Homo sapiens: one gene and its partner. The protein of the gene in region 1 interacts with the protein of each later gene in a biochemical or structural test. Each region holds a gene or a part of one and is shown on either strand. Other genes may lie near its edges.

What was found. Proteins that work in one complex are often made in the same cells at the same time.
Region 2: the proteins of KCNJ12 (region 1) and IL16 interact in a test that uses a peptide from one of them, tested with the Homo sapiens proteins (one large-scale study listed by IntAct).

What each region holds. Positions count from the first base shown.
Region 1 is NC_000017.11:21,382,077-21,387,402, forward strand, and holds part of KCNJ12 (ATP-sensitive inward rectifier potassium channel 12), read left to right. Parts: intron 1-5,326. UniProt on the Homo sapiens protein: Inward rectifying potassium channel that probably participates in controlling the resting membrane potential in electrically excitable cells. Probably participates in establishing action potential waveform and excitability of neuronal and muscle tissues.
Region 2 is NC_000015.10:81,202,963-81,207,818, forward strand, and holds part of IL16 (pro-interleukin-16), read left to right. Parts: intron 1-4,856. UniProt on the Homo sapiens protein: Interleukin-16 stimulates a migratory response in CD4+ lymphocytes, monocytes, and eosinophils. Primes CD4+ T-cells for IL-2 and IL-15 responsiveness. Also induces T-lymphocyte expression of interleukin 2 receptor. Ligand for CD4.

The DNA.
Region 1 (5,326 bases):
TGGCCTGCCATCTGTCTGTCTGGCTGAGTGGGAGGGAGTTGGGGCTTCCTTCAGGCCCCTACTCTGGGTGGAGTGCTTTATATCTGTACCCTCACTGCTTCAAGCTCCAAGCCCTGTTGTGTCCTCTAGCACTTGGCCTGCTTCAGCTCAGGATGTCCCCATCTGATTCCTTCTGAGGATCACAAGCCGTTCCCATTGCAGATCCCAGCAAACTGAGGCCTGGGGCGTGGGGCCTCTCATATCTCAGCTGATGGCTGAATCCTTTCTCCTGCCTTCAGCATACATGTTTGGAGGGCGGCTGAGGGGATGGGGCTGGCAGGGAGGGGACAGTGTCTCTGTTTCTTGCCCAGTTAAGCATTCCAGACTCCCCACGGTCATTGAGTTTCATGTCAATGCATTTCACCTCTCCTTTCCAGTCTTTTTTTTGGAACATGACACCCACGTTATAAAATGTTTAAAAATGTTTATGATTTGCAATGATCAACTCCAGCGGCTTTAGTGGCCAGCAGTGATCACCTCTGCAACTATAGAGACTGGCATGCTTTCTGCTTGCCTGAGCACTGCCCGTCCCTCCTCCCCTGGATGTCCATGTTGCCTCAGAAAAGACAGGGCTGGTGGCCCCTTTTGTGGGGAGCAGATAGGTTCTGGTCCTGGGCCTCAGCCAGGTGTGCCCGGTTGGCCAGGTGTGCAGCCAGGTGTGCCAGGATGGGAGATTGTCTCCTGGGGCTCACCTGGGGAGTGGGGGCAGAAAAGGAAACCAGGTAACATGAGGACTGGCAGCAGGGATACTTCTCAGCCCTCCCTGCCTCCACCCCAAGGGTGTACAGGAGGGTGCGACGTGACACCTCCACTGTGGGAGCGGGCAGCCTGAGGCCAGAGAGGGTCCCCACAGCCGGAGGTCACACAGTTCCCGGAGGAAGGCTGGGGCGCAGCCTTGAGGCCACAGACCCTCTGTCCCTGATGCTTCCAGGCAGCTTTTGGGGACTTGGCAGGGGAGGGGCCGGGGAGAAGGGAGCATGTGGAGACTGAGATGTGTATGATAGAGAGGATGAAAGGCCGGGGGCAGGAGAGGTCAAGGGGGATGGAGTGGCCTGGTGGCCGGAGGTGTGCCCTTGCCCCTGCCCGCCCCGCTTGCTCCAGCTGCAGCCGGGCCCGAGCTGGCGGCTCCAGGCCTGCAATTCTCCAGCACTTAAAGCAAAAATAAATCGCTGCCAGCAGCTGGCGTTCTGTGTGGCAGCAGCCGAGCCAACCCCGCCCCGACCCTCTGCCTCGGGGCTCCTGGTTCCGGGCCAAGCCAGGCTTCCATTCAGGGCTGGGGGGCGCCGAGGCCAGAGAGGGTCCAGGGGAGCTTGGCGTGGCCGGAGGGGGCGGGTCCTGGCATGATCACAGGGAGGGCAGAGGCAGATGGAGACCTGGGGCTTCCAGGGGTGCTGGGATCTGGGGCAGGTTGGGGATGCTCAAAAGTGGGGCTTCTGACAGTCTTGGGTCTTGTGGAAATAGGGCCTGGGAGGGGCAAACTCAGGGGTCACAGCCACCTGTTTGGCCCTGGGGATCCCCAATCACAAGCCACCCCCAGCCTGTCCCCTGGATGTCCCTTTCTTTCCATCCCCTCCTTTCCCTTCTCAGAGAATCCTAGAGGTCCTAGAGGTCAGGTATTTGCGTGGTGAGCTTTGAGGATGCAGGATTTTGGCCTCATTCCTGAGCTCAGCAGGTGGCTGGGGATGTGGCCTGCACAAGACCCCTGCCCTGGGGGGCTGACATCTCAGTGGGTGGGGCAGGATGAAATAGACAAAAAACACATGAGCCATCACGGGCATTGTCATATTTTGTTGAATATAACAGTTTTTAATTATAAGAGTGTTATGTGCTCACAGTAAAGTGATAAACAGTTGTAAGGGGAAAAGTGAATTTCTCCTCCTCACCCCCTGCCTCCCCCACCCCCAGAGTTTCTTGTCCTTGGGGTGACCATCATTAGAGAGGCTTCTGGGTTTCTCAGTGCTTATGCAGACGTGAATAAGTAAATGGAGGCATAGAAACGTGCTAATATCTAAGTTGCCTTTTTTTAAATTCGTATGGGACCATTGCATACATGTCATGGCGTCCCCTGCACTATGCGCACTGCTGTGTGGTGCCCGTGCCCACTGGACCCAGGGGGTCTCATCCTGTCGTCCTGGGCATGGATTGAGGGCTGAGTCTTGGGACTGTAGGATCTTTGTGGCATCTGAATGCACAGAGCCACCGAAGTCCGTGAGTCATGGGTTCTTTTCGTTGTCATTTTAGCTGCGTTGAGACAGAGATCCTGGATTGCAGGATTTGGTTTAAGTACCAGGAGAGGTACCGAGTCCTCGCCTGGGTGCCTCCTTCGTCACATCCCTCTGGGAGTTGGGATAATCCAGATCCCCTGCCTCCATCCCCAGAGCTCAGAGGGTCTGGGGGGCTTCAGAGTCGCAGCCTGGGGCTTTGGGACCTCTGGGTGAACCTGGCTCCCACTCAGGGCAGAGTAGACACGCTGGAGCTCGGAGGGGAGGCGCTCATTGCTGCTCCCACTGGGGTCCTTCTTCCTTTAGCCTCTCTTCTTCCCTTAGCCCTGACCTCCTAGAAACAGGATCACTTGTTCCCTCACTGTCTTCAGGCTGGGGCAGGCCTCTGTGTGGGGAATGTCACTTTGTTTTTTTTTTTGTTGTTGTTTGTTTGTTTTTTTTTTTTTTTGTTTTGAGACGGAGTCTCACTCTGTCGCCCAGGCTGGAGTGCAATGGCGCGATCTCAGCTCACTGCAATCTCCGCCTCCCGGGTTCACGCCATTCTCCTGCCTCAGCCTCCCGAGTAGCTGGGACTATAGGCACCCACCACCGCGCCCGGCTAATTTTTTTTTGTATTTTTAGTAGAGACGGGGTTTCACCGTGTTAGCCAGGATGGTCTCGATCTCCTGACCTCGTGATCCGCCCGCCTCAGCCTCCCAAAGTGCTGGGATTACAGGCGTGAGCCACCGTGCCCGACCCAGGAATGTCACTTTGACCTGTCTCCAAGCTTCCGCATCTCAGTGCCTGTCCCATCCTTGTCATTCCTTGGAACCTGGCCTGAGATGCATCAGGGTGGTCCCACCTTACTCCACCAGGGCCCCTTATTAGAAAGGATCTGCTACACTGATTGGGAGAGTGACTAGTCTGTGGTCACTCTCAGTATCTGTCTCAGTGTCTGTGGGGATCAGATATACCTGGTGCCCTTCTTTTATGAGCCTCACTTTCCATGTTTGTGAAATGGGGAGGCAGTCCATTCTCGTGTCTGGGCATCTGTTCTCTCCTTCCCTCTGGGCTTGGGCACTGCAGGCAAGACAGGGCAGCTTCCTGGCCTCCTTGATCCCTATTCTGCTGTGTGGCCGGAGGCTCGGCCCTGCCATCACCCCGGCCTGCTGGGCTGCAAGCTGTCAGCAGCACCTGCCCAGTCAGAGCGGCCAGGTCCCTCCCCAGGCCCTGGGAGCCTTGAAGACCACTGGAGGCAGTGCCCCAGGAGGTAGCCGTGGAGTGGCCCCGGCCCTCCCTGGGGGTTGTGTAACAGAGGAGACCCCGCTGCCCTCCTCTTTTCCTCTGCAGGGTGGAGGCTGGCCTGGGCCCTGCCAGCACAGCCTCCAGGCCACTCATGGGTCCTGGCCTCCATCCCACGGTAGATGCCCTGACTCTGCAGCACCAGGGCTCATGACCAGGCTCTTGGTGGCCTTAGGACCAGCTGCCGCTGGGTGGGGATGCCCCAGATCAAAGGCAGGTAATAGAGAGGAGACTGGGAGGACAGTGGGTGGGGAGCAGGAACCCTGGGAGCCTCAGTGTCCTCCCCTGTGAAATGGGAACACTAGAGAAAGTGGGTTGGGCAAACCCACACGCCTACCATTGCATCTGGGGTGTGGAAGGAGCACTGGGGCAGGAGTCTGGCAGCACCACCAACCAGGTCCAGTAAAGAAAGCCGAGGCAGGGATCAGAGGGCGGCAAGCCAGTGAGACCCTGTGTTGGTTTCCTGCTGCTGCCACCATAACAGACTGGGTGGCCTAAAACAGTACAAATGCAGCATCCGTTCTGGAGGCCAGACGTCTGAAACCGGTGTCTGCAGGGCTGGTTCCTCGCGGAGCCTCTGAGGGAGAAGCCATTCTGGGGCTTTCCCCCAACTTCTGGGGCTTCTGGCGGTCCTGGCATTCCTTGGCTTGTGGGCATCTCCAGTCTCTGCCTCTTGTCTTCACATGGTCTCCTCTCCCTGTGCTGCCTCTCCCTCTCCTCTCTCTCACTCTTTCTGTTATGAGACAGTCTCACTCTGTCAACCATGGCTCACTGCAACCTGGAACTCACAGGCTCAAGTGATCCTCCTGCCTTAATCTCCCAAGTAGCTGGGACTACAGATGTGCACCACTATGCCTGGCAAATTTTTAATTTTATTGTATTTATTTTTTTTAACTATATGTTTTTTTGATATGGAGTCTCGCTCTGTCACCAGGCTGGAGTGCAGTGGCGTGATCTCGGCTCACTGCAACCTCCACCTGCCAGGTTCAAGAGATTCTCCTGCCTCAGTCTCCTGAGTTGCTAGGACTACAGGCATGCGCCACCACGCCCAGCTAATATTTATATTTTTAGTAGAGATGGGGTTTCACCATGCTGGCCAGGATAGTCTCGATCTCTTGACCTTGTGATCCGTCTACCTTGGCCTCCCAAAGTGCTAGGATTACAGGTGTGAATCACCGCGCCAGGACCTCTACTTCTAAGGATGCTTGTCATTGGATTCAGGGCCCACCCTAATACAGGATGATCTCATATCCAAACTCTATATTTGCAAAGGCTCTTTTCATCTGAATAAAGTCATATTCACAGGTTCTGTGTGGACATCTCTTTGGGGAGGGCACCATTCAGCCACTACTCATGGCCAACCCAGATATGCCACCCTGCATCCTTTTTCTCTTTTAAGAAACGTGCTCTCCCTGTAGTCCCAGCTACTCAGGAGGCTGAGGCAGGAGAATGGCGTGAACCCGGGGGGCGGAGCCTGCAGTGAGCGGAGATCGCGCCACTGCATTCCAGCCTGGGTGACAGAGCGAGACTCCGTCTCAAAAACAAAAACAAAAACAAAAACAAGAAACGTGCTCTCCATTTTGGGAGGCCGAGGTGGGCAGATCACGAGGTCAGGAGATCGAGACCATCCTGGCTAACACGGTGAAACCCCATCTCTACTGAAAATACAAAAAATTAGCCGGGCGTGGTGGCAGGCGCCTGTAGTCCCAGCTACTCGGGAGGCTGAGGCAGGAGAATGGCGTGAACCTGGGAGGCGGAGCTTGCAGTGAGCCGAGATCGCGCCA
Region 2 (4,856 bases), on another chromosome or scaffold:
TCTCCACATCCTCTCCAGCACCTGTTGTTTCCTGACTTTTTAATGATCACCATTCTAACTGGTGTGAGATGATATCTCATTGTGGTTTTGATTTGCATTTCTCTGATGGCCAGTGATGATGAGCACTTTTTCATGTGTCTGTTGGCTGCGTAAATGTCTTCTTTTGAGAAGTGTCTGTTCATATCCTTCACCCACTTTTTGATGGGGTTGTTTTTTTCTTGTAAATTTGTTTGAGTTCATTGTAGATTCTGGATATTAGCCCTTTGTCAGATGAGTAGGTTGCAAAAATTTTCTCCCATTCTGTCAGTTGCCTGTTCACTCTGATGGTAGTTTCTTTTGCTGTGCAGAAGCTCTTTAGTTTAATTAGATCCCATTGGTCAATTTTGTCTTTTGTTGCCATTGCTTTTGGTGTTTTAGACATGAAGTCCTTGCCCATGCCTATGTCCTGAATGGTATTGCCTAGGTTTTCTTCCAGGGTTTTTATGGTTTTAGGTCTAACATTTAAGTCTTTAATCCATCTTGAATTAATTTTTGTATAAGGTGTAAGGAAGGGATCCAGTTTCAGCTTTCTACATATGGCTAGCCAGTTTTCCCAGCACCATTTATTAAATAGGGAATCCTTTCCCCATTGCTTGTTTTTGTCAGGTTTGTCAAAGATCAGATAGTTGTAGATATGCGGCATTATTTCTGAGGGCTCTGTTCTATTCCATTGGTCTATATCTCTGTTTTGGTACCAGTACCATGCTGTTTTGGTTACTGCAGCCTTGTAGTATAGTTTGAAGTCAGGTAGCGTGATGCCTCCAACTTTGTTCTTTTGGCTTAGGATTGACTTGGCAATGCGGGCTCTTTTTTGGTTCCATATGAACTTTAAAGTAGTTTTTTCCAATTCTGTGAAGAAAGTCATTGGTGGCTTGATGGGGATGACATTGAATCTATAAATTACCTTGGGCAGTATGGCCATTTTCACGATATTGATTCTTCCTACCCATGAGCGTGGAATGTTCTTCCATTTGTTTGTATCCTCTTTTATTTCCTTGAGCAGTGGTTTGTAGTTCTCCTTGAAGAGGTCCTTCACATCCCTTGTAAGTTGGATTCCTAGGTATTTTATTCTCTTTGAAGCAATTGTGAATGGGAGTTCACTCATGATTTGGCTCTCTGTTTGTCTGTTATTGGTGTATAAGAAAGCTTGTGATTTTTATACATTGATTTTGTATCCTGAGACTTTGCTGAAGTTGCCTATCAGCTTAAGGAGATTTTGGGCTGAGACGATGGGGTTTTCTAGATATACAATCATGTCATCTGCAAACAGGGACAATTTGACTTCCTCTTTTCCTAATTGAATACCCTTTATTTCCTTCTCCTGCCTAATTGCCCTGGCCAGAACTTCCAACACTATGTTGAATAGGAGTGGTGAGAGAGGGCTTCCCTGTCTTGTGCCCGTTTTCAAAGGGAATGCTTCCAGTTTTTGCCCATTCAGTATGATATTGGCTGTGGGTTTGTCATAGATAGCTCTTATTATTTTGAAATACGTCCCATCAATACCTAATTTATTGAGAGTTTTTAGCATGATGGGTTGTTGAATTTTCTCAAAGGCCTTTTCTGCATCTATTGAGATAATCATGTGGTTTTTGTCTTTGGTTCTGTTTATATGCTGGATTACGTTTATTGAATGCTAAATGACGAGTTAATGGGTGCAGCACATCAACATGGCACATGTATACGTATGTAACAAACCTGCACGTTGTGCACATGTACCCTAAAACTTAAAGTATAATAATAACAAAATTAAAAAAAAAAAAGAAAAAAAAGAAAATTTGGAAGGCATTGGAAGCAGCCTGCACCAAGTCCTGGAAGCTAGAGAGCGCATGGGACATTCAGGGGACTGAAAAGGTTTAGTGCTGTAATAGAATGGAGTTCAAGATAGGGCAGAGCAAGAGCCTGGAGGGGTTGGGGGAGCAGACCATGATGATAAAAAAATTGACAGGCCACAAAACAAGACAAATTTTAAGTCTCAGTGACGGTTGTTAATACGATTTTGAAATAAAGCAAATGATAAATCTTAGACCGGGCGCAGTGGCTCACACTTGTAACCCCAGCACCTTGGGGGGCCAAGGTGGGTGGATCATTTGAGGCCAGGAGTTCAAGACCAGTTGGCCAACCTGGTGAAATCCCATCTGTACTAAAAATACAAAAATTAGCCGGGCATAGTGGCACGTGCCTGTCATCCCAGCTACTCGGGAGGCTAAGGCAGGAGAATGGCTTGAATCTGGGAGGCGGAGGTTGCAGTGAGCCGAGATCACACCATTGCACTCCAGCCTAGATGACAGAGCAAGACTCCATCTCAAAAAAAAAAAAAAAATCTTGAGAGATGATATATAATGATCTATGATGTCCCCTAAATAGTCAATCACTCTGAGAGCACCTAGCACCTCACCTCTTGCATAGGGAAGAGGCATCAGATAGTGCCATTCTTGCAATCAATGAAGAGGAAAAATACAGGCTCAAATATTGCTTTGAAAAATTCTTTACATAGCCACCAGTAATATCAAATAAAATGAATGAAACCTATGATTCATTAAGAAGGAAAAGAAAGTGTGAATAAGTTGACTGGAAAACAAGAAAAGGAATAATTAAGGAGCCATAATAAGAAAAACAAAACATGTGAGAAGAAAGATGAATCAATTAAGCTCTGTAGTAAGATTACACATTAAAATAAAAGAGACTCTCAGATTCAGTTTAAAAAAGGGAAACAAAAAAAGCCTAAAGAAACAAACTCTCTCTCCCCAGTCCAATTATATCCCACTTTCAAGAGACACATTTAAAACTTAATCACATAAAGTTACAAATAAAGGGATAGGAAAATACTGTGCAAATGCAAATTAAAAGAAAGTGAGGTGTCAGTGTTAATTTTGTCAGACAAAATAAAAATTGAGGCAACTATTAAATAGATCAAGAATTACTTTTTTACAAAATGATAAAAAGAGCACTCAATGAAGGCATGAAAATCAGAAAACTTTGGGTAAACATAAAGCGTCGAAATATGTAAAACAAAAAAATTAGAGATATACTCCAAATATGGTGTTAGATTTCAATGTACACCACTGTTAAGATTTTTTCAGATTAATTAGACAAAATGTACATAAAGAGCTTGAATTCTATGACTTACAAAATTGAATATGTGCTTACATATATATGCAGTCATGTGTTGCATGGCAATGAAGATAAGTTCTGAGAAATTTCATCGTCGTACAAACGTTACATAGGGTACTTAAACAGACCTGGATGGTATAGCCTACTACACCCCAAGGCTATATGGTATTGCCTACTGCTTCTAGTCTACAAGCCTGTACAGCATGTTATTGTAGGCATTTGTAACACAGTGGTAAGTATTTGTGTATCTGAACATTTGTAACAAAAGGTACAGTAAAAATATGGTATTTTAATCTTATGGGACCACTATCATATAAGCAGTTCTTTGTTGACCATAATGACTGCATTTTAATATCACATTTGAATATATACATATTTGAAACCCAAAACACAGAATAATCATTCTTTTCAAATGTGCACAGAACACATAAAACACTTAGTCACATCACATACTGGCTAACAGAGTAAACCTCAATGAATTCCAACAAATAAAAATAAGACACATCCTGTGGCACGATGCAATTAAACTGGAATTTTCTAATAAAAAATTGTAAGAACAGCAACACTAAATCTGGGAAATTTAACTACATGAAATTAACAATAACACCAAAAATCTCCTGAAGAACTGAGTTTAAATTGGGAATCAAAACTGCAATTACAGACCATTCCTAAAATAACATTTAGAATATTGTATTTCACAATTCCTGGGTTGGGGCCAAAAGGATGTTCAGAAGAGAATTTCGGGCTTTAAATAATGATGATGATGATGATGATGATGATGACGATGACATGGTGGCAATAAAACCACCCAACAAACCATGCTAAGAAATTTACATCCAGGCCAGGTGTGGTGGCTCATGCCTGTAATCCCAACACTTTGGGAGGCCGAGGCAGGTGGATCACGAGGTCAGGAGATCAAGACCATCCTGGCTAACACGGTGAAACCCCGTCTCTACTAAAAAAACCACAAAAAATTAGCCAGGCGTGGTGGTGGGCGCCTGTGGTCCCAGCTCCCCTGGGGAGGCTGAGGTAGGAGAATGGCGTGAACCTGGGAGGCAGAGCTTGCAGTGAGCTGAGATCATGCCACTGCACTCCAGGCTGGGCGACAGAGTCAGACTCTGTCTCAAAAAAAACAAAAAAAAAAAAAAACAAAAAAAAGAAAAGAAAAAAGAAATTTACATCCAATATTTCAATTTATAATCACAGTGTTGCTGTGAGATGGCTAATCATCTGCATCTTACAGATTTTTAAAAAGTGATTCACAAAAAGGCTAAGTAGATTATTTTAAATTTCAACTTTATTTTAGATACAGGGGATACATATGCAGATTTGTTACATGGGTATATTACAACTAGATAGTGAGCATAATACCCCATATGTAGTTTTTTTAACCCACGCCCCACCTCCCACCCACCCCCTCTAGTAGTCCATGGTGTCTGTTGTTCCTCTGTTTATGTTACTATGTGGCCAATCTTTAGCTCCTACTTACAAGTGAGAACTTGAAGTATTCGGTTTTTTGTTTCTACATTAATTTGCTTAGAATTATGTGTGGTCTCTAGCTCCATCCATGTTGCTGCAAAGGACATGATTTCATTCTATTTTATGGCTGCATAGTATTTCATGGTGATACGTACCACATTTTCTTTACTCCACCGTTAATAGGTATCTAGGTTGATTCCATGTCTTTGCTATTGTGAATAGTGCCA